2 separate regions of the Homo sapiens genome follow, and region 1 is linked to region 2. The links come from fine-mapping of genetic effects on gene expression. A gene starts in region 2. The other region holds a variant in brackets. All regions are shown on one strand. Distances are between the middles of the regions.

Region 1 (12,042 bases), 100 kb after region 2:
CGCCAGTCTCTGCTCCCACTGGGATTCCTGCCCAGCCTCTGTCCACTCCGAAGGCTGGGATGAGCGTCTAATGACCGTGTGCAGGGAGAAGGTCGGGGGCAGGTGAGGAGCAGGCAGCCTGGACCCTGCCTCTAGTGGACAGTCCCCATCCCCTTGTCTGACCCCAGGGTTGGGGGGGCCTGCCTCACTTTTCTGAGCTGACAATTGTAGGGTCTCTTGGATGCTCCCACACACTTCGAGTGCCCACAGCTCCCCCACGGGGTACCCGGGAAGGAGAGAAGCGGTGGTTGCGGGGGAGAGGGACGGCAGGAGTACAGGAGTGAGGCTTAGCTGTCTATGGCCTTGGGGGGCTTATGTTCTTGTCCTGGCTCCTGAGAAGGAACGGTTTGGGAGAGGAACTGATTGAAATGTACTTTGCGTTTCTGGAAATTGAAATACTCAATTTGAGAGCATAGCGGCAATTAGTGTTTAATCACAGGAGGATAGAGCATGGGTGGCTGTGCCTGAGCTGGGGAGGACGGGTGGGCTGATTACCCGTCCTGCTTCCTGCTGTGGGGGCTGAGTCCCATTCCTCCCCTTCCCTAGGACAGATTAAAGGTGTAATTTGATGAATCAATTTGTTTTCTGGAGGAGAGAAGGGAGAAGCAGAAATCTCATAATAGCTGGAAGCAAGTTGCTCCATCCTGTCCTACAGGAGTCTTCATCAAGGAGCCAGGGGCGGTAGGGAGGCAGACCCAGTAGAGGAGGCCTCAGTGGTGTCTTCCTTTGAAGTCATGCACACCTGAGTTCAAATCCTGGTTCTGCCATTTACCAGCTGCACGACCTTGAGAAATCCACTTAACCCTCCACTTCCTCATTTCTAAGAAGGACAGCCCAGCAGGGTAGCTGGGCTAATATTTAATATTAGTCAATGTGCCTTCTGCAGTGTCTGGCACTTAATGGATGATCTATAAAGGAGAGAGGATACTGGGGGTAGGGAGGGGTGGGCTGAGACAATTGACCCCTGCTGGGCTGGACTTGAGGTTCACGGCCACATGGTTCCCTGTGCAGCGCCCCGTGGGTCCCAGCAGACACAGCACCATAATGGGAGACTTCTAGGCCGAGAGGGCAAAAGCTTCAAACAGCAGGCGGCAGCACCAGCTGTGTGGTGGCTGGGAGCTGGTCTAGCCTCCGCCTTCCTTCCAGAAGTCTCCCCAGCATCCTCAACCAGGTCAGATCCCCCAGCATGACTCAACATCCCTTCGACTTCCCTTCTGCAGCCCTGTAAGTGCTGGGGGTGCTGTATGTGGTGGTGGGCACCTGGCATGCCAAGTTCATAGCAGGTGCTCTGTCAGTGCAGAGCTGGGCACTAGTGGCCCAGGGTGACAGGCTTTGGCTGGCTGGAGCAGGGCTGGGTCAGGGTCGGGAGAGGCTGGGCTGCAGCAGAGACAGCTCAGGTCTGAGTCAGACAGACCTGGGTTCAAATCCTACCCATCCCTCCCAGTGTTGGGGTAGGGGGCAAGTTGCTGCCCTTCTCTAAATCTTATTTGTAATTTGCTTTCCTGGGCTGGTTATTAAGAATAGTAGAATTTGTCTTCTACCTTCTCCTGGCAGGTGGATGCCTTAGCTCAGCTCCAAGGGACAGTTTTGGGTACTGAGAGGGAACAGGGATGGGGAAGGTGGCCTCCCTTTTACTGAGTCCATACCAGGCCCTGTGTTAAGCTCTTTATGCACTCTGAGTCCTCATCACTCCCTTGTAAGGCAGGAGTAATTCTTTCCATTTTCCAAACAGAGAAACTGAGGCTCAGAGAGGTTTCCTGGCTTGCTTAGTCTCAGCAGCGAGGAGCCAGTTGTTGAACGTGGGGTTGTGTGACTCAGAGCCTGGGCTCTGTCCAATCCCAGCTGGCAGTGGGGGAAGGAGGGGCCTGGGCGGGAGGCTGCAGCTGGGCGTGGGTGGGCAGGTGGGTGCAGAGGCCCATAGATGCTGGCTAATGGGCCCTGGTGGGCCCGGCGCTAATGGGCCCTGGAAGTGCCAGGCGTAGATTTAGTGGGAAGGCAGGTGCTGGCTGCAGTGGGCCAGGAACTCTTCTGCCCCTCCTTTCCCTGTCCCATTCCTCAGGCCAGGGAGGAGGGGGAAGGAGATGGGGGCTCAGGGAGGGGGCATGCACCTAGCTTTGCCACTGACCCTACAGCTGGGTCTCAGCTTTCCCTTCTGCCCAATGGGTGAATCATTCCCTCCCCTCAGGTTTTGTTCTGAGTACCAAGGGCCATACTCTGTAGGAATGAATGCTGTAAAAATCAGGGGGCCACTGAAGTAGTGACCCCCACCCCAAGAAAATGCTCTTTCTTTGGAGACTCTCAGGGCTTTAGGGATAGAAGCAGGTGTGCCCCAATTATGCCAGTTTCCCTTTTCTCCTCCCCGCCCCCAACCCCTGGCAGTCCTAGGTGAGGGACCGCACAGCCAGGCCTGAGTGGGTGGGTAGGTGGCGCTGGCGCAGCCAAGAAGTGCCTGCTTCTGATTGGAAGGCTGGTTTCCATGGCGACCGATTGATTGCCCAAGCTGCAGACTCAAGGGGAATGAGCAATGGGGCCTTTCTCCCAAGCTTCACTGCTCAGGCTTGGGCCTGGAGGCCAAGGCAGGGGTGACATCTTTGTGTCCTGTCAGGGACAAGGGGCCCACTAGGGAACAGAAGGGCACCTCAGCCCAGAAGCCACCACTGGGCACCTGCTGTGTGCACATTCTGAGCTAGCAATGGAACAGGAGGAGGGGACCTAGCATTTATGAAGCAACTACTATGTGAAAACGAAGCTGCTGGGACTAGAACCTGGCCCAGTGGAGTCCCAAGCCTGTGAGCCTAACCACCAGGCTGTGATGCTCGTCCATGCTGCTTGTGAGGACTAAGCACATTTATGGGACACCAGCAAGCATCCTTGGACCACCAGACTGTAACCCCGCTCACACCAAGCTCTGAGGGTGAGGGTGAGACAGTCATTGCTGAGGGAGATCAGGGCTGGGGTGAATGTTGGAGGAATTAGGGAGGAGGATTAAATGTTTGGGGTGAGGGTAGGGAAATAAAGGCACCCCAGGCAGGGCACTGGCTTGGGCAAAGGCAATGAGGTGGAATGAGCTGGCCGTGTGGCAAGAGTTGGCCCCTCCACCTGTGATGTGGACTCGAAAAGGAGGGGCGGCCGTCTCTCTGATTGTTAGCTATGCAGGCCTGTGCCAACCACACCCTACCTCCCCTTTTACCCCTTTCCCATGCCCGTCTTCCCACCTATTCTGTCCATTCTGCCTCCCCCTCACTGGGGCCTGGGTGAGTCCCTGGCCCTCTGGCCACAGAGGTCCCACCGGCCAAAGGAGAAGGCTGGCACCAGTGGGGCTGCCTCCAGGACTCCAGCAGGGGATGGTTTCTCCCCGTCCCCTCCACGGTCTCTTCTCAGATTCCTTCTTTCTTCTTTCTCTCCCTCTTCCTTCTTCCCTGCACGCACCACCCCCTCCAACAATATTCTCACTGTCTCTTTTCCTGCCCTGGGGGTGATTTTGTCCGATTGATTGCCCAAGCAATCTGAATTGCTCTGAATCAGAAATCTGACTGGTCCCTGCCCCAGCCCCATCTCCATCGTGAACCCCATCCCCTGGTCCCACCCTGCCGCTGCCCTGCTCCCTGGCTCCTGCCCTGCCTGGCTCTGTCCCTCTTCATCCCAAACTCTCACTTGGCCCTTGGTACTCAGGACAAGACCTGAGAGGGGGAATGATTCACCCATTGGGCAGAAGGGAAAGCTGACACCCAGCTGTACAGTCAGTGGCAGATCACTGCCCTGCTCCTATCCCTGCTCTGCCCTGCCTGCCTGCCCCGTCCCTGTCTAGCCCCTCCCAAGCCCTGGCTTCATCTGAGCCTCTGCCACAGTCTTAGGTTCCCAGATGGGCTCGCTTAGGTCCTGGCCTCATTGTCATTCTGTCCACGCCAGCATCAGTCGGTGGCTGCAGGCACTGTCGGGGGTGAGGGGGAGAGAGAGAGAGAGAGGGAGAGAGAGAGAGAGAGGGAGAGAGAGAGAGAGAGAGGGAGAGAGAGAGAGAGAGAGAGAGAGAGAGAGAGGGAGAGAGAGAGGGAGAGAGAGAGAGAGAGGAGGAGAGAGAGAGAGAGGGAGAGAGAGAGGGAGAGAGAGAGAGGGAGAGAGAGAGAGGGAGAGAGAGAGAGAGAGAGAGAGGGAGAGAGAGAGAGAGGGAGAGAGAGAGAGAGAGGGGAAGAGAGAGAGGGAGAGAGAGAGAGAGAGGGAGAGAGAGAGAAAGAGGGAGAGAGAGAGAGAGGTTGGGGCTGCAGGTTGCGGGGAGCTGTAGGTCTGCTCTCTGAGCCTCCTCTCAGAAGGACAGAAGTGTTGTGTACAGGCTGGAAATAGCTGTCCATTATTGAGTACCTACTGTGCGCTAGAGAGGTTACAGTATCTCTAACCTCACAGCAGCCCCAGGAGACAAGTAAAAGGGACTCTTCCTCTTTACTCCAAGAGCCGAATTGACATCTCCATAGTAAACATTGGCAGGATTCATTTGGGACCCAGGTCCTCCTGGTCAAAGCCCCTGCTCACTGCCTTCTGCTGTGGGATTTGGGAAATGGGGTAGCTGGTCCCTACTGCAGGTGCCCCTGGATTGCTGAAGCCCTGTAAGATCTCCAAGGATGGCCAGGGCCCCCACAGGCACAAATGTGGGTAGGCTAAGGAGGAGAAACAGGGAGGGGGAACTGCATGAATGGAGGCTTGGAGGCCAGGACTGCTTCGGGAAGACTGTATGGGAGATGCAGCTTGAGACAAGGTTGCGGGGGTGAACCAGAGCCATTTCATATAGGGCTTCAAGACTTGAAGACCAGGCTGGGCCTTGACAGAGAGAACCTGGGAAGCATCTGAAAGTTGTTGAGCCAGGGAGGGAGATGATCCCAGCTATATTAATTCCTTCCTTCCTCCGTTGACTCATTTATTAAAAATTTATTGTCTTCTCCGCGGCATGCCTTTGCTGGGACTGGTGATTCAGAAATACTAGTCATAGGCCGGATGCGGTGGCTCACACCTGTAATCCTAGAACTTTGGGAGGCCGAGGTGGGTGGATCACTTGAGGTCAGGAATTCAAGACCAGCCTGGCCAGTATGGTGAAACCCCATCTCTACTAAAAATACAAAAATTGGCCGCGTGTGGTGGTGGGCGCCTGTAATCCTAGCTACTTGGGAGGCTGAGGCAGAAAAATCGCTTGAGGTGGAGGTTGCAGTGAGCCATGATTGTGCCACTGCACTCCAGCATGGGCAACAGAGAGAGACTCTGTCTTAAAAAAAAAAAAAAAGAAAGAAAAAAGAAAAGAAATACTAGTCACAGTTCTGGCCCTCAAGAGGCTCACAGGCTCACCAGGAGAAACTCATGCATATTCATAAAGGTACCAAAGTCCCACTGGTACCGAGATAGGTTTGTATACTGGGGCAGTGGGAGAAGGGGGAGAGACCTGGAATGGCTTCAAAGGCTTTGGTCCTGAACTAAGTCTTGGGGGTCAAGTAGAGGATGCAAAGCCCATTGGACTGGGAATAAAGAAGGTTCCAGGCAGAGAAAACTGAATGGGCAAACATCTGGAGGCTTGATACAACCTGCTGGGCTCAGGGAAGTGCTAGCAGTTTGGGTGTTTGGTGGAGGGGGGTGGCTCAGCACCTGTGCTGCACTGGGGATCCAGGGAGGAGGCAGGTGACCCTGGCTACAGAGTCGGGGATGAAATGAAGGGGGGAGCAGGGAGACCTGGAAGGAGATGATGGAGGCTAGAGTTGAAGGAATGGAGAAAGACTGCAAAATATCCACCCATCCATCCATCCATCTAGAAAATGTTTGCTGAGGCCGGGTGCGGTGGCTCATACCTGTAATCCCAGCACTTTGGGAGGCCGAGGTGGGCAGATCACCTGAGGTTAGGAGTTCGAGACCAGGCTGACCAACATGGTGAAACCCTATCTTTACTAAAAATACAAAATCAGCCGGGCATGGTGGCGCATGCCTGTAATCCCAGCTACTTGGGAGGCTGAGGTAGGAGAATTGCTTGAATCCAGGAGGCAGAGGTTGCAGTAAGCTGAGATTGCGCCATTGCACCCCAGCCTGGGCAACAAGAGTGAAACTCCGTCTCAAAAAAAGAGAAAGAAAATGTTTGCTAAGAACCAGTGTGGGGCAGGGATTGTGCTGGGTGCTGGAGGTGGAACCGGTCAGGCTGGGTCACTGACGGGAGAGGGTGGCTGGAGGCCAGGTTGATAAGCTTGGAGTGAGGACAAGCAGGATGAATGGGGGCAGGGGATGAATATCTTGAGTTCAAAG[T/C]GCATCCACCCAGGTAGCCGTGATTCGGGATGGGGAGGCAGCAAGCAGCAGGGGCTTGGCAAAAGTCAAAGGCATTTCTTTTTCTTTCTTTCTTTCTTTTTTTTTTTTTTTTAGACGGAGTCTCACTCTGTTACCCAGGCTGGAGTGCAGTGACACAATCTCAGCTCACTGCAACTTCTGCCTCCTGGGTTAAAGCGATTCTCCTGCCTCAGCCTCCCGAGTAGCTGGGATTACAGGCATGCGCCACCACTCCTGGCTAATTTTGTATTTTTAGTAGAGATGGGGTTTCTCCATGTTGCTCAGGCTGGTCTTGGATTCCTGATCTCAGGGGATCCGTCTGCCTCGGCCTCCCAGAGTGCTGGGATTACAGGCGTGAGCCACTGCACCGGGCCGGTCAAAGGCATTTCTAAGATGGGTGCTGCCAACTGTGCTCAGGGCTTTCCCAGCCTTCACTTCATCCTCACTTAATGGCATTCCCATCTGTCCAGGTGAGAAAACCGAGGCGTAGAGGCTTCATCGTTGCCCCATTATTGCAGGGATGGGCAAAGCTTTTCTGGAAAAGGCTACATAGTAAATATTTTTGACTTTACGAGCCATGCTTCTTGGTCAAAACTATTCAACGGTGCCACCGTAGAGGGAAAGCAGCCATAGACAGTACCAGAAATAAGTGGGTGTGGCTGTATTTTAATTAAAAAAGTGGATGAACATGGAAATTCAAATTTCATATAATTTTCACATGTCAGGAATTTTTTTTTTTATCTTCAGAAATAGAAAAAACCTAGCCGGGTGCAGTGGCTCATGTCTGTAATCCCAGCACTTTGGGAGGCCGAGGAGGGTGGATCACCTGAGGTCAGGAGGTTGAGACCAGCCTGGCCAATATGGTGAAACCCCATCTGTACTGAAAATACAAAAAAATTAGCCGGGTGTGGTGGCCCGTGCCTGTAGTCCCAGCTGCTTGGGAGGCTGAGGCAGGAAACTTGTTTGAACCCAGGAGGGAGGGGCTGCAGTGAGCCGAGATCGCACCACTGCACTCCAGCCTGGGCAACAAGAGCGAAAACTCCATCTAAAAAAAAAAAAAAAAAAAAAAAAAAAAAAAGAAAGAAAGAAAAAGAAAAAGAGAAAAAAAAGAAAAAAAAACATGCTTGGTTTCTGGTTGTACCATAACAGTTTGACAGGATTTGGCCTAGGGGCTGTAGTTTGCCCACCCCTTGGGGGATGGTTGGGAGGTGGCAGAGCTGGGGTTCAAACTAGGTTCTGCGAGCCCACGGGCTTCTGGACCAGATCAGCTCCAAGTGTGTGCCGGACCTCAGCCCCCTGGTCTTTCCCTTTCGGGTTGGTTCTCCCATCTTGGGATGCACAGAGCATCCTGCTTCTACGCTGCCCATTTTGGGCAGGAGGCAGTGTGCCGGGCAGGCCAGGGGATCTGAATCCCCCAACTCGGAAAAGGGTCCCCGCCCAGCCACTTGCCAGCTTGGAAGACTGGAAACCTCTCTAGGCCTCAGTTTCCCCACCTGTAAAGTGGGGCATAGCAGATAACTCACCCGCAGGGTCGCCGTGAGGCTGCAGTGAGAATATACCTTGAAACGTCTCCCCACCCCGCGGCTGCCTCAGTTTCCCTCCTCCCCTCCTTGCCTCTGAGCCTGGTCTACACCTGCGCCGCGGCCTCTCCCACCTCCCCCACCGCCGTCCCCCTCCTTAATGCGGAGAACGACATCCTGGGTGTCTCCCAGCTGCCTCCTGCGCACGGACGGTTTCTCGAAAGCTTTTAAAAACGAGGCTCCCTCCCGGCGGCGGCAGGGAGGGTGGGAAGGGGGGCGCCCACCCTCGGGAGCTTCCCCGGTGGGCGGCGGCGGCCGCTCCCAGCCTTTTCGGGAGATCTCTGGCTGATTATTATGGAAATCAGGCCCCAGCAGCGCGCCCGGGTGGCGCGGGAGCGGGAGGCGCTTGGTGCGGCTGAGACGCGCTGAGGACCCGCTCTGCCAGCCAAAGGAGCGGTGCGGGGGAGGGGGCGTGGGAGCTTCCCGCGCTCCTGGGACACGCGTGGCCTGTTCTGGCCCGGGTGCCCGGGTGACACTGTTCCCGCGCAGGGCCGATGGGCTGAGCTGCAGCCGGAGGGGCTGGGGTCGCGCACGGAAACCTGGGCGCCCAAGTCTGGGAGTTCATTTCCGCCGGGACCTGGGCCCTTGATATCAGCGGTGCTGGATATTTTCAGTGCAATTAAAGGCAAAGGCAGTGGGGTTCACGCCACCACCCCAGGAACAGAACTGGGGCGTGTAATGAGCTCAAGCCCTGTGTACTGGGCGCGTGTACTCGGCGTCCAGCACCGACCTCAGGGCGCTGATCTATTTAAATCCTTCCGTTGACTTGGGCATGGTCAGGCCCATTTTATGGATGAGACAACAGAGACCCAGAGAGGCAAAGCTCACACGGCCAAAGCAGTCGAGGAGAGACCTGAGCTGGGAGTTGTCCAACTCCTCTGGCCAGTTCTTACACCTTCGGTCATCCTGTCTCCAACCTGAGGATGATGCCTTTGACCTTCCAGCCGCGCATCCAGCTCTGGCCTGCCCTGTGCCTCTCTGCGGGGGGACTCTGCAAATGGGGAGAGAGACAGCGTGGCTAATGTCGAGGAGAGCTGAGGGTGGTGGGTTGTCCTGGTGCTGAGGGGCTCTTGGTTTCTGACTATGCCTTCTATCACCACCACAGGGTTTGAGTTGAGCCAGGATCCCCCACCCCCACCACCCCTCAAGGTGCAGGAAATCTCATCATTCAAAATCCATTTCCTTTATATTGTCACATTCTGGAGAAGGGCTCCAATCTAAGCTTAAAAGTGATAGAGAAAATAAAAATGGGAAAGTCAGATGGATTCGGCCACTTTGTAAGCCAGAAAAATGGCCCCAGCAGACAGGTGAGCAACAGCTTTGGAAAAATCTCTAGCAATCAAGAACGGCCATGGGGGTTTATCTTTGCTCTGTAATGATCCCAGGCAGACGGAGAGGAAAGGCAGAGAAACCTGCAGGTGAATGGGCAAAGGGCAGGAGCGATGATTCACACTAGAAAGGAAACACAAATGCTTAACCCTCACAGGGAGAAAGTCCATTCCCACTCAGATATGAAAGGAATACAAATGTTAATCAATGCAGTTCCATTCAAACTCACAAATATTTTAAAACATAAAGTTATTTAATTTACCGCTGAATAACTGTAACTATTTTTAACTGAACTCATGGTTACCCTGGTAGTCCATCCTCCCAACTGCTCCAATTCACAGATAGGAACCTAGGCTAAGAGAGGCTAATTGCATAATTTGCTCCAGGTTAGACCTCTGGTGAGTAGCTGAGCAGGGTCACCTGTTCGGTGGCAAAGTGGTGGCATCTGGCCGGGCGCGGTGGCTCATGCCTGTAATCCCAGCACTTTGGGAGGCTGAGGCAGGTGGATGACCTGAGGTCGGGAGTTCAAGACCAGCCTGACCTATATGGAGAAACCCGGTCTCTACTAAAAATACAAACTTAGCCAGGTGTGGTGGCACACGCCTGTAATCCCAGCTATTCAGGAGGCTGAGGCAGGAGAATCGCTTGAACCCGGGAGCTGGAGTTTGCAGTGAGCCGAGATTGCACCACTGCACTCCAGTCTGGGCAACAGAGCGAGACTCCATCAAAACAAACAAACAAACAAACAACAAAAAAACCCACAAACAAACCACACACACAAAAACGCAAAGGTTAGGCTTCATCCCAGCCCCCGTGGATCAGAAACTCTGGCGCTAGGGACCAGCAATCTGTTTTAAGGAGCTCTCCAGGTGAGCTGGAGGCTACAATTAGAGAATGACTGCTCTGGGCTCCAGGAGAAGGTAAGGAAAGCAGGTACGTGCTTTCGCTGCAGAAGGCAAATTGTATTGTTTCAACCTTTTTGAATTACCTATGGATAACAGGTATTGTGAGCCTGTAAACGGCCACCAATGGCACCTCTGAGAAGCCACTGAGAAGTAGACATGGTTTTATCCATGGAGGTATTTAAGACAATGTATTTATAAACATGGAATACTGGAAACAGTCTGAGTCTCCAGCAATAGGGGACTGGGGAGAGAAACCTTGGTTCATCTAAAAGATGGCTGCTGTGCAGTTTTGAAAAGTGAGTGTGTAAAGACCGCACAACGTGGTACAATAGGAGCAGACAAGTCCTCCTGGGTTGCCCAGGACTTTCCCAATTTTAGCACAAGAAGGCCGGCATTTTGGAAAACTCCTTGGTCCTGAGAAAATGGGGACAATTGGTCACCCTAGCTATAATCGGCACTAGTGCCACACCCCAAGTATTACTGTCCTCCCATGTTGCATGGCCGGTGGTAGGATGGTATTTCATCTGGCCTTGCAGTGAGGTAGCTATGTGACATGTTTTGGCCAATGCAATGTGAGCGGAAGTGGCATGTCACATCCAGACAGCGCTCCTGGCAATTCATGCCAGGATGGCACCTCCTCAGCCTAGGTCCCTGAGTGACTATGATAAGCAGAGACTCCATGCCGATCCCTACCCTGCAATCCCAGGGCATAGGGTGTGAGCAAGACATAACCTCTTGTGGTGTGTGAAGCCACTGAGATTTGGGGATATTTGTTGCCACAGTGTAACCTAACCTGTCCTGGCTGGTATACACGTGGACATCCGGATTTCATAGTTTTAAGGCTTAAGTGTTAGGCCGGGCATGGTGCCTCACACCTGCAATCTCAGTACTTTGGGAAGGCCGAGGCGTGCAGATCACTTGAGGTCAGGAGTTCGAGACCAGCCTGGGCAACATGGTGAAACCCCGCCTCTACTAAAAATACAAAAATTAGCCGGGTGTGGTGGTGCATGCCTGTAATCCCAGCTACTCGGGAGGCTGAGGCAGGAGAATCGCTTGAACCTGGGAGGAGGAGGTTGCAGTGAGCTGAGATTGTGCCACTGCACTCTAGCCTCAGGGACAGAGCGAGAATCTGTCTCCAGAAAAAAAAAAAAAATTGGCTTAAGGTTACAAAACTGCATTTGCAGTATCATTGCAGAGACATAACAGGTGTGTTGGAAATATTCTGAAATGTTTACAAAATTATCAGGTAGAGGAATTCTTGGTCTAGGTTTTTTTTTAACTTTTAGGATTGGGATACATGTGCAGGTTTGTTATATAGATAAACTGCCATGTGAGTTTGGTATACGGATAATTTTGTCACCCAGGTAATAAGCATAATACCCACCAGGTATTTTTTTCTAATCCTCTCCGTCCTCCCACTGTCCACCCTCCAGAAGGCCCCAGTGTCTGTTGTCCCTCTCCTAGTATTCATGTGTCCTCATTATTTAGCTTCCACTTATACGTGAGAACATGCGGTATTTGGTTTTCTGCTCCTGTCTATGTTCGTTTGCTTAGGATAATGGCCTCCAGCTCTAGCCGTGTTGCAACAGAGGACATGATCTCATTTGTTTTTTGGTCTAAGTTTTTCTTCCTCTTCATTGCGCTTTCCAATTTTCTGCAATGAGCATGTTTTATTAATTTTTAAATGGGGGACATTTTCTGAAAAAATCATTTCTTTGGATCAAAGGTTGGTCCCCTCTGGGCTCTTATTTATGAACTGAAAATCCCTTGGGGGAGGGAGAAAGAGAAGAGTTAAGCTTTAGCCTCAAAGGATCACAGGGACTGGAAAGGTCACAGAATTAATCCTGCCCTTCTGCTGGAGCCTTCTAGCTGGTGGCTCCTCCTGGCCTTAGCAATTGGATCAG
Region 2 (12,042 bases):
AGAACCTCAGGAAAGGCATGACTCTGGGAAGTGACAAGCGATTGTAGGGCTAAGAATGGGGCTTTGAGCCTAAAATATCCCCAGCGTCTCGTGGCCACAGCCTGGCTGCATCAGCAGGAAAGCCTGGGGGAATCATCGCCTCTTCTTCACTGTGTGATCCTGGTCAAATTGCTTAGCATCTCTGAGCCTCTGCAGTCAAATGAGAATAACAGAAGTACCTCGTAGATTGTTGTCATTATTCACAGAGACTTTAATTCATGTAGAGCACATGGCACCAAGCCTGAAGGAGAGTAAACACCTCCTTTTTGAGCTATTATTACGATTTTAGGAAGAGTGTGGCCAGGTTGCAGAAAACTCCAGATGCCAGCGTAAGGAGCTGGCGCTTTACCCTGTGGAGTCAGAGACCAGAAGTTTTTGAGCAGAAAAAAGAACATGAAGAAACCAGCCAGTCAGCTCCTTTCTAGCCCCTACAGCATCTGGAACCTCGGAGCCGGCAGCAGGTCAGCAGTGACAAGCCCAGCCATGAGGCCGGTGACCTCCAGCTCCCAGGAGCTGCCGGCTGCCCCAGTTCCGGACCCAGGCAGCAGCCTGCCCCCACCCCCAGCATCTCCCTGGAGGGAGCCAGATAGATGGTTTAATAATGCAGGCTGCCGGGCTGACCTCGTAGCCGCTGAGCCAGCTGAGGCTAACTCCGCTCCCCCTGCTGTGGCTCCCGCAGAATTCCAGAGCTCCCTGCAAGGGTGCTCAGATCCAAATGGCAGCCACACAATAGTGCGGGGTGCAGTGGCCTCTGGCTAGGGGACAGAATAAGTCAGGCAGATGCAGAGATCTGAGCCTTCCTTCCTCCTCCTCCAGCTCTCCCTGGGGGTGTCTCAGAGGAGTCTCCTGGTTCAGAGAGCTGAGAGGAGGCCATCTGCCATGGGGCTGTAAACACTCGGCAGATCCCGCTTCTGTTGGAGCAGGCCTCGGGGTTGGGGGGAGGGGGATGGACACTCTCGGTCTGGCCCTTGCACCATTGGGTGGGGCAGCTCACCAGGACCCTCCCCAAGCACCTGCTTGTGACTGGCAAGGGGCTGGGCACCCATGGCACAGATCTGGATTAGATGGTTGAATTGGCTGAAAATGGCTCACCTTCTAGTGGAGGCAGCCGGTGTGTCAAAAGGGGTGTCCCCCATTGTCCTCCTGTCCCCTCCCTATCTGACAGCACACTCCAGGGCTGCTCTACCAAGACTGGCGGGGAGGCAGCCTGGCAAACCTCACCATCCAGTCATCTCAGCCCCAGCCAGGCAAGCAGGGTGCCATCAGCACCTCTAATAGGGTTCTCTGGGGTCCCTCCCATAGCTGGGTCTCTGGACCTACAGGCATCCACGTGGACACTTCAAAATATCCCCCAGAGTGTGGCCCTGGCCTTTGGTCCTCACAGGCACCCCCTCACTGGGGCCACACCTTCGGCCACCTTTGACTCTTGTCCAGCCCTAGGGTCTTTATGCACATTCTTTATGCATCATTAGCCTTGAGCTGCCCTTGGTCTATAAACAATGAAGACCATAGGCTCTCAGAATCATGGACTCCTAAGGAATCAGGCCATCCTGTGTTGGCTGCCACTCCTCTAGTTCTGTTTTCGTCTTTGATAGTCTGGATGCAGAACACAGAACTTCCTCAACTTCCCCAAATATAATTGATTGATCTCAAAACCACTGGCCCCCAAGAGGGCTCCTGATGGTACCTCCCTCCTGGGCTCCACCCCCTGTGTGGTCCCCTCACTACAATGAATGGGTCAGATCCATGGAACCAACGGGAAAGCAAAAATGAGTGTTACTTCTGAGGACAGGTCTTAAGAGACACAGGCTTCCTACTTGTTCTCACTCTGGAGAAAGCAGCCGCAATGTTGTGAGGACACTCAAACAGTCCTATGGAGAGGTCCATGTGACAAGACACAGAGGACTCCCACCAACAGCCAACACCACCCTGCCAGCCACGTGAGGGAAGCATCTCAGAAGCAGATCCGCCAGCCCCAGTCCAACCTTCAGATGGGTGGAGCCCCAGCTAAACATCTTGACTGCAAGTTTATGAGACATTTCAAGGCTGAATCACCCTCTCCCAAATGCCTGACCACAGAAACTGTGAAATAATAAGCATGTCATTTTGCAGATTTAAGCCACTGAGTTTTGAGGTAATTCATTACAAAGCAATAAATGACTCATAGGAGAAACACGCAGACTTTTCTGAAGGGAGTGGGGGGAAGGAGGTGGTAGGGAGACTGAAGTGGGGGAGGGGGCTCGTAATGTACACACCACAGCAAAAGAATGTCAAAATCCTTCCTAGAAATACATGTGTTCTTCGCAACTAGGCCTCCTGGGCGGGTCGGCTTCCCTCCCTGTCACCTTCCTCCCGACTTGTGGTCTCTTCTCTCTCCTACTCATTCTCCCCCAGGCCCCAGCATCTGACAACTACCTTCATCCTTGCATGCCCTGACCTGTCACAGTGACCAGAAAAACAAAACACTCCTAGATAAGAGGACCCACCTTCCCCAGAAGGCAGCTCAGCCCCCATCTCTTCCTAGTCCACTTGGCAGGGTTCCACCGTGGGCAAGGACCACGCTTTGCCTTCCAGGCCCGTCTTTTTCTTCCAGGCTCTGTCTCACCACTGGCTCCTGTCCTCAGCGAGCTGATGTCCTCAGTTCCAGTACTGGAGGCGCAACAGAAATGTGATTTTAGGTCTGGATCCAAAGGAGGAATGTGACACCCCGCACAAGCTCTGGGGTGTGTGTGTGTGTGTGTGTGTGTGTGTGTGTTTCTCTGAAAGAATCACTTTAACCTAATTTTCTTAGCATCAACTCAAAATGCCACTGAGACCAAGTGAAGAAAATTTCACCTAAGTACAAAGGGTAAATCTTGTTATTCACCTTAAACAATGCGTGAAGCTTTTAGCATTTCTATGTTCCTCTCACTCTTCCTCCTCTGTTCTCTAAGCTTTGAAGAAAGGACGACTTTCTGGAAAAAATGTCTTTCTAGTGACGTGGCCAGGGCAGTGGGATCATTTGGATGTGGGCCATGCTTGTTCACCTTGAAAATAAAGGGCACTTTCTGGTGAGCTGTCAGCCAGGGGCAGCTCCTGTGCACCTCTGGGAGAAGGCCGAGCAGATGGGGTTCTGGGATGCAGGGCAGGTGCCCAGCCCACCCATGTCACCTGGCACTGACATTTCGAGGATGGTTCTGCTCCGGTTAATTTTCCTGTGCACGCGTCACTCCACCCACAGCGCAATTAGCCCAGCTGAGGGCAGGAAGTGGTACCTGGATTCACATTCCTCCAAGACTGTCCATGGTGGTGGGGAGAGGAGAAATTAGGGCGCTGGTGGGAAGGGGGGGTGGATGCTGTGTGCCCGGAAGAGAACCTCCTAACGTCTAGATTGGTGGCTTATTAATAAGAATAATGTGTGAAAATGGCCTTGCACAGTGCCTGGCCCTGAGCGAGCCCCTGACACATGGTTGCTACTTGATAGAGGTGACCAAGTGAAGAATAAGCTGGGGGAGGTGGACACATAGAGAATGAATAATGACATGATGTGATGTGTGCTGTCACTGAAGCCTTGCAGAGTGTTCTGGGAGCCGGTGGAGAAGGAAGTAGCTCAGCCAGCTCAGTTTAGGAGTGGTCAGGGGAGGCTTCACTGAGGAGGCGGCTTTCAAGCAGTACCTGAGGATAGGTAGAAAGTAGACAGGTAGGGAAGGGATCTGAGAGGAGGAAAGTCCTCCCACATCAAGGGAACAGGATCAAAAGCACAAAGGTGTGAAGATGATGGGGTGACAGATCCAACTCCATCTTCTATATGGTGGCAGAAAGTGAGTCTGGAAAGGGCAGATATTGGTGTTGCTGGGACCCAGAACATATGTGGGATGATATTGAAGATGCTGGAGGAATAAATAAGGACCAACTGCAACGGGCCTTATTTAGGCAAGTTAAAGAGTTTGGAGTTTTGGTCAGGTGCGGTGGCTCATGCCTGTAATCCCAGCACTTTGGGAGGCTGAAGCAGGAAGATCACCTGAGCTCAGGAGTTTGAGGCCAGTCTGGCCAAAATGGGGAAACCCCGTCTCTACTAAAAATACAAAAATTAGTCAGGCATGGTGGTGGGTGCCTGTAATCCCAGCTACTTGGGAGGCTGAGGCAGGACAATAGTTTGAACCTGGGAGGCGGAGGTTGCAGTGAGCGGAGGTTGCACCACTGTGAGTGGAGATTGCACCACTGCACTCCAGCCTGGGTGACAGAGAGAGGCACTGTCTCTAAAATAAATAAATAAATAGTGTTTGGATTTTATCCTGTAGCAGAGAGGGCTTACCATTCATCTCTGTATTTATTCCTGAGGCAGACATCACCAATTGATCATGCCATTTTCTGCAAAGGGTGAGCACCTCTAGGCAGCTGCTGCCAATCACTTGTCATGAGAAAGAGAACATATTTGCCTCTGTGCATGGGCTCTGGGGAGCTACTGGAGGGTTTAAACAGATGGGTGGTGAGGGAGTTTGTTGCAGGTATCCAGGTGACGGCAAGCCTGGTCTGGGGCAGTGACTGTGGGAATGGACATGTTATTGCTTACGTTTGTCTCGGTCTTAACCATTCAGCTACGGATTCTAGGCAGTCTCCTGAGCTCCCCGCTCCCCGCATTCCCAGGTCCTCAGGGTTCCCTGTGTGTGTGTCTGTGTGTTTGTGTGTGTGCATTAGGTCTGCCTGGGCTTGATTTTAATAAGGAGCTTGCTATATGTCTGGAGCTGCACTATCTCACATGGCAGCCACAAGCCACATTATGGCTATTTAAATTTAAAGTAATAACAATTAAAATTAAAAATTTAGTTCCTCAGCCACATTAGCCACAATTCCAATCACTCAATAGCCACATGCAGTTAGTGGCTACTGTCTTTGACAGTGCAGACATGTATCCTTTCCACTATGGTCTAGAGAAAGCCCAGTCGAGTGTCTAGATGGTGTGGTCCACTATGACCCTCAGGCCAGGCCAACTCTATCTTCTATATGGTGGCAGAAAGTCAGCTAAGAGCTGAAACTCTTGTCAATGTACATCTGCCCAGTAAGGGCAAAGTCTCCAAAGGGAGATTCTTAGACCGTTTTAGAGCTTCAAACAAATTCTGACCAAATCCAGCCAGACCTGGAGGTCTCCAGGGAGAAGGGAGTGGCCGGCACTGTGCTGGGGGTACTGGCTGCTTTTGCTATATTTCTTTCACAAAGGAGGAAACAGGCTCAGAGAGGGTTGTGACTTGCACTCTGGAAGATGACTGGGAATGTCTCGGAAACAGAGCAGCAAGAGGCTGTTTTGCCACTGACTCCCTGGTATTCTTTGGGGTCATCACTGCTCAGTTTCTTGGGCAGGAGCGGATTAGGTGGCATCTGCCAGTGCCCATCTCAGAAAGTGTCTGGGCCTGAGAGCCACAGGGGGGCTGTTGGCTTGGGGAGCACTCTAATTTCTCGAGGGATCCGCCAGAGGGCGCAGAGGCCGTTATGTTCCGCCTGAGGGGCTCTTCCAGCAAGGTCTTGGAGCTGGGACCCTGCTTCTTGCCCAGCCTTGTCAGGGATACACACCATGTGTTGGATACCGCCCCTGCCCTGTAGGAGGGCTCAGTTTAGAGGGCAGAGACAGCACATGGCTTGTTTGGGTTTGCAGCGAGGGACCTTGAAGGATGGGTAGGAGTGTGCCAGGCAGCCTGGGGTGCAGGTGGGGAACGCCCAATAGTCCTTCTGCATACCCCAGGACAACAAGTGGCCTGTGACCCAGTGCTTGTCTGCCCTCCCAGCCCCATCCTGGGCCGTTCCCTGTTCTTAGTTGAAAGGAGGGAGGAATTTCTGGACAGACGTTCTTTCTGCTCTACTAATACCCAACTCCGTGGAGTTCCCTGTACACACATACAAAGCTGTTTCATGCCTCTGTGCCTCTTTGCACATGCTGTTCCCAGAGTCCAGGACACCCTTCTCCTCCTTCTTTAGCTGGCCAACTCCTACTCATCCATCAAGATTCAGCTCAGGCAGTGGCTTCTTCTGGGGAGTCTCCTTATTCCAGACCTGCATGAGATGTCCCGACGGGGAGTTCCCGCAGCCTGGACTTCATCTGCTGTGCAACACCTGAGAACAGGCGCTGGTGCATGCGGTCCTATAAAAGTGATGGAGAAGTACAGGGCCTGCTGGCAGCAGGCCTCCGACATGCAGCTCGCAGGGCCTCGGGAGGAGGTGCTTGCATGCCCAAGCACCAAGTTATAGGCCCCGGGTGCCAGGCTTCTTGCATCTTCCACCTCCTCCTCCTCCTCCCAGCATCCACCCCTTTGCAGGTGGCAGCAGGTGGCAGGGGCTTTGGCGTAAGGGGCGGGGAACTGGGCCTCTGGAAGGCTAATGAAGGTTCTCTAGCTACAGATGAGCCCAGTATCCCTTGGACCTACTCCTGGAGGGGTGGGGAAAGGCAGTGAGTGCCCTGGCACAAGGTAGGGGAGCGTAAAGTCTAATACTGTCTGTAGGCTCCCTGTGTAACCTTGGGGGAATCACTCCTCTCCGAACCTCAGTTGTCTGGCCTGTAAAATGGGAACGCAGCAGCCGCACTTCCCCAGTCGCCAGCGGTTGAACGCGGGACCAACCAGCAGGGCGCAGGCGGCAGGGCATGGAGGTACAAGGCGGAGAGGGGGCCCATCAGCGGAGGCGGAGTCCAGGGGGAGGGCGAGTCCAGGCGCACTTCGGGCGGCCCCGCCGCAAGTTTGCCCCCAGCTGTTGAATGCGCTGGCGGAGGCCGGACCCGGACCCGGACCCGGATCCCGCGGGGTGAGCAGCGCAGGGGGCCGCGGCCGGGACAGGGGTCCGCCAGGCCGGGGCTCGGGTCCGTGGGGCCGCCTTCGCCTCCCCGGGCGCTGCAGCTGCAGCGGCGGCGCCAGGCGCGGCCCCAGCCCCGCGGGCGTGTGTCTGCGAGCGCGCGTGTGTCCGTGGAGCGTGCGGCCGGCTCGGGGGCGGGAGCGGGCTTGCTGCGGAAAGGCCTGCGGAGGGCACCGGGAGCGGGCGGGCTGGCGGACGGACAGACGGGGACGGACAGACGGACACAGCCTGCCGCGGTCCCTGACGCGCGCCGCTTGGCCCCTCCCGGGCGCCCTCCCCGCCGAGGCAGGGGCAGAGGCGCGGCGGCGGGGAGGAGGGGGCGGCGGCGTCTGCGCGCACACGCGCGCTCCCAGACACACACACAGACACACGCGGGCCACCCCACGGCCACGCACCCCGCACCCACACCCGCGCTCACACTCACATTCACACTCACACTCACACGCGCAGGCCCCGCGGCCGCCGCTTCCCGGAGGCGGTGCTTGGCCCGGATCCCGGCTGGGGCTGGGGTAAGTGAATTCCTCTGGATCCGAGCGCCGCGACCGACCGACCGGGGAGACGGTGGGAGTCGGGGCTGGAGCCGGAGGGCACCCCCTCCGTCAGTGGGGGTGGGGCTTGGAGAGGGACACGGAAGGGGGGATGAGACGGGGAGAGCCACCCCCAGTGTCTCCTGGGTCTGGGGATCCCCGTGAGACCCCCGGGGGACCACCCTGCGCGAGGGAGGTGGTGGTGGTGGCGGTGGGCGGAGGCGGTGGGAGGACACCGAGGACGGTCGGTGAGGTGAGCGTTTCTGGGGGTGGTGCAGAGGCTCGATGGTGGACGGTGTGCCAGCCGGTGCCACACTGCACCTCTCTGCCCTCATCTTTTCGAATCGGGGGCCCTAACCCCTCTCTTTCACGGGGTGCTGCCGGGTCAAGGCATTCATCCTCTAGCTGGTAAGAGGGGTTGACGGGGTGGATGCCTTCTAGGGGAAGGGGGGCCAGGGTGGGGCTTGACGGCGGTGGGGTTGGTAAGACCAGAATTGGGGGGTGGGGACCCTTTCAGAGGCGCTGGCCAGGGACAAGGAGGGAGGCAGCCCAGGGAGGCGGCATAAATCGCAGACACTGCAGCTCTGGCAGGGCCGGGGCCACTGCCGGGTGTGTGTGTGTGTGTGTGTTTGTGTGTGTGTGCGAGCGCGTGCCAGTGTGTGTGTGTGCGTGCGTGTGTGGGCTCCAGCAGCTGTCAGGGGACGGGGAGGGGGTGGGTGTGTTGGCTGGTGGGGCGCCGTGTGCATGTGGAGAGGATTGTGCGTGCTGTGTGTGTGTGGTGTGTGCGTGTGTGTGTGGACATGGGGTGGACCCTGCTCTCTGTCTGTATACACACAAGCGCACACACGCACACTGTCAGTGGCCTGGCAGGATTTCCTCGGAATGTTTGGAGGGAAGGGAGCTGATGTGTGTGTGTGTGTGTGCGCGCGCGCGCGTGTGCATGCACACTCGGGGAGCTTGTGTCCAAAACAGAGGCCACAGGCCATGGTGTGTCAGGCGTGCCCAAGGAGGGAGACGAGAAGGGGACAGTGGTGCTGACCGTGCACTCAGCTGGGGAGGAACGTGGTACTCGGCACTTTCTGCAGCTCAGGGCTCTGTGCTGTGCCCCTTCCCCCTGGACTCCTCCCACCCAGCAGCTGCGGCTGGAGGGCACTGCCTTGGTCCCTTGCTGAGACGCAGGTGTTGGGCTGGAGTGTGTGTGTGTGTCTGGGCTGCGGCTGTCGCTATCAGCAGGCCAGGCTGTCGGAGTCAGAAAGCTGGAGGGAGTGGGGTGCTGGCAGCACCTGGAGGAATGTGGTGGAAGCTGTGGGGCGCGGACTGCCCGGCGCGGTTACCGAGAGGCGTTTTAATATGCAAGTTGCATCATGAGATGGGACTGGGAGTGTGTGTGTGTGTGTGTGTGTGTGTGTATGTGTATGTGCATGGCTGACACCCCTGTTCTCGTGGCCCGTGGACACCTGTGGGACGTGTCACGTCTGGGCCATCAGCAAAGCATGTGGGCATGTGTGTCCCCTGAGAGGGGTGCACAGGCAGGTGCTGTCCTGATGAGCCGGGGGCCCTGCAACTGTGTGGGTGGGGAGGTGGGTACCTCTGGGCCATCAACGCCTAGGCAGGAAGAAAGAGTGTTAATTGTGGGGACATCAGGAAAAAGTATGTATGTGAGGTCAGTGAGAACCTCAGGTGTGACATAAGCTCCAGGCCGCAGGTGACGTCACTGGGACAGTTTTGTCGGAGGTTGCTCCCCCCAGCCAGAGTGTGTAAATGTGATGTCACGGGAGTGTGTGTGGCCGAGTGTGGTTATGTCTCTTGTATATGAGGGGTGGGAAGGGGAGAGGGATGGAGCCTTAGGACGCGTGGCGTGGTCCCTCCCAAGAGGCCGCCTTTCCCAGCATCCTGAGTGGGCATGGGACCCCTTTCCTTAAGTCCTGCCCCCTGAAGAGTGCACCTTCCAGGACTGGAACCCCCGAAGGAGGTTCTCACATCAGCACCATTGGCTGCTGAACTCCTTTGCCAGGTGGGCCTGGAGGCCTCCAATGTGCTGCAGCCCCCTATCTGACCTCCCCAGTCCCTGTTTTCCTCTTCATCCCAGCCAGGCCCACCACCCCTGGGTGGATGTGCTTTAATGAGTGAGTGTGTCAGTGCATGTGACAATAGAAAATGGCCATAGCCAGGGAGCGTGAGGCCATTGGTTCGAATCCCATTTTGCTGCTTTCTGTGTTTTGTGATTTAAGCATTCGCGTCGCCTCTCTGAGCCTCAGTCTCTCCTCTGTAACATGGGGTGAGGGGTTAGAGAGGTGAAGGGGGTTAAGGAGACCATGGGCCTTGTGGGGGGCGGGTGCTGATGCCTGGCATATGGTGGGGGCTCAGTCCACGTGAGCTCTGTCCTCTCACCTCCTATCCCCCTAGCCCAGAGTAGCTGCTTTCCTGTTTTGGTTTAAGTCTAACTTTGCAAAGGACTTTCTTTTCTTTCCTTGGATTTCCACGGCAGTTCTTTGAGGTGGGTGAGTTAGCCACTATTATGTGGATATTTGACAGATGAGTAAACTGAGTTCTGGAATAAGCTGTCTGTTGATTTAATGTGAATTCCATCCCCCCCCCCGCCGCCCTCAGTGGCTACAGGGAGACACATTTGATTACCCAGCCCCTTCTCGAGGGGTACCTTCCTTTCCTGGAGAGATATGGAGCTATGAGGAATTGGTGGTGGGGTGCCAGGTGATGAGCCCAAGGCCAAGAGTCTCTGGCTGGAGGAGAGGCTGCTCTTGACTCCCAGGTCAGTGCTCTCTTGCTCTTCCACCCACAAGCTCCAGAAACAGTCAGCGTGATAGGAACGGGCACACTCAGCAAGCCTTCTCCAGTGGGGCGTGTCTAGGGCGGTCACTGGGGGCTCCATGCCTGTTCCTCAATATCCCCTGAGGTCTTGTAGGATGCTTGTTTTTGGCAGCAGAATTGGGTTCCAGTGACACCCCTGCCGCATCTGCATCCTGGCTGTGTGTGACAGAGGTCAGCCTCTCCTGTCTCTGTAAGAGGGTGGTGGCAGCTTCCCTTGCGGGTGTGATGTGTGAGTGTGAAAGGGTGACAACCGTGTGCAGGGCTGGGAGGCACACATTGCTGCTACCCTCACCTGCTCCGGCCACAGTGCCTGGGGGCCAAGCTCCTCTCTCGGTGCCCCCACCTGCCCCATGTTGTGACATGTGCTGTGTGGAGTGGATGGCCGAGAAGTAGGATTGCCTCGAAACCTGACGCTTCTTAGCAAGTTAGACCTCTTCAGGAGCTGTGTTAATCGTCTAGAAGGTTTACCCAGTCCTCTGCCTCCTGCCGTCCCAGCCCAATCCCTGATTAAATTAACCTTCTCTTGGCTCAATTACCACCTGGGGCAGAGGCATTGACATTATTACTGGAGATGGTGTCTGGGGGTTGGAATAATTGAGCCCCCTCTCCTTCCCCCTAGCTCTGCCGACAGTCCCCAGGAAAGCCCCAGAGAAGCCCTGAGGACTCAAGAGCCACCTGGGCAGGCTTGCTTATGCCTGGGGTGCCAGAGGAAGGGTGCTGGCTGCACGATGCTGCTGATTGAAATAGTAATAACTATAGTGATAATAATAATAATGATATCAGCTAATATTATTGAGCCCCTACTGAGAGCCAGGCCCGGTTCGAAGCTCTTTATGGGCGGCATTCGTTTAGTCCCACAAAAGCCAGCTGCAGCAGGCACTATTATTATTCCTCATTTTGAAGACAAGAAACAGAGAGGTTACAGACCAGTCCAGGGCCACACAGCGATGGAACCAGGACTGGAACCCTCGAAGGGAAACTCTCACATCAGCACCATTGGCTGCTGAACTCCTTTGCCAGATGGGCCTGGAGGCCTCTACATCTTGGCCTACCCCTCTCACTGAAGGCCCTTTCTGGGCCTTGCTTTGCTTATCTGTAAATGGGTGCAGTGACCCTGCCCTAGGGAAGCTGGGGGTGGCGGACGCCCTTTGCTTTGGCTGCAAGGAGAGACAGGAAAGGAGGGGCCTCGTGGGTGGTGCCTGCATCTCAACCCCCCATCCCATTCCCCACAGAGATGGGACACCCCCAAAGGCAGCCCTTTGCTCCCTGGCCCTCCCACAGTGCCTCGAACAGCAGCGCTTGGAGGGCTCCCCCGGGTGACAGTGGGGAGGTTGCCCCAGGATCAGTATCTTCTTCAGGTCCCGAGTCTATCGTGGCCTCAGCTGTGGCCCCCTGGACTCCCCACCTGGCCATCTTGCTTGTGGAAAGGGCAGGGGCAGGGCTCCAAATCCAACCTCTTTTCCTCCTCGGTGTGGGTCCTGGGCAAGTCACTTCCCCCCCCCCCCCCGAGGCCCAGTTTCCTCAATATGAAGTGGGGACAAAAGTACCGAATTCTTGGTTGGGCGTGGTGGCTCACACCTGTAATCCTAGCACTTTGGGAGGCCGAGGCAGAAGGATCACCTGAGGTCAGGAGTTCGAGACCAGCCTGGCCAACATGGTGAAACCCTGTCTCTACTAAAAATACAAAAAATTATTCGGGCATCGTGGTGCATGCCTGTAATCCCAGCTACTCAGGAGGTTGAGGCAGGAGAATCGCTTGAACCCAGGAGGCCCAGGTTGCAGTGAGCCGAGATTGTGCTACTGCACTCCAGCCTGGGTGACAGAGTGAGGC

Alleles and levels. Alleles are on the strand shown, and positions count from the first base shown. SD is a standard deviation of normalised expression in the study named.
In carriers of allele T in region 1, the expression in liver of the gene that starts at base 7,183 in region 2 tends to be higher than with C alone (moderate effect, 0.47 SD a copy in GTEx).

What was found. PIP is the estimated chance that this variant, and not a neighbour inherited with it, causes the effect.
Region 1: its variant is fine-mapped to the expression of ELFN2 in liver (GTEx, PIP 0.94).

Annotation. Positions count from the first base shown.
Region 1 is chr22:37,321,114-37,333,155 of GRCh38, reverse strand. LOC105373024 (a long non-coding RNA gene) reads left to right here and starts at 1,020. Exons shown (of 4, transcript XR_938232.3): 1 at 1,020-1,263. RefSeq lists a silencer at 2,354-2,648 and enhancers at 3,547-4,192, 4,640-5,839. The variant T/C (reference allele first, on the strand shown) is at 6,307.
Region 2 is chr22:37,422,620-37,434,661 of GRCh38, reverse strand. It overlaps ELFN2 (extracellular leucine rich repeat and fibronectin type III domain containing 2), which reads left to right and starts at 7,183. Exons shown (of 3, transcript NM_052906.5): 1 at 7,183-7,364.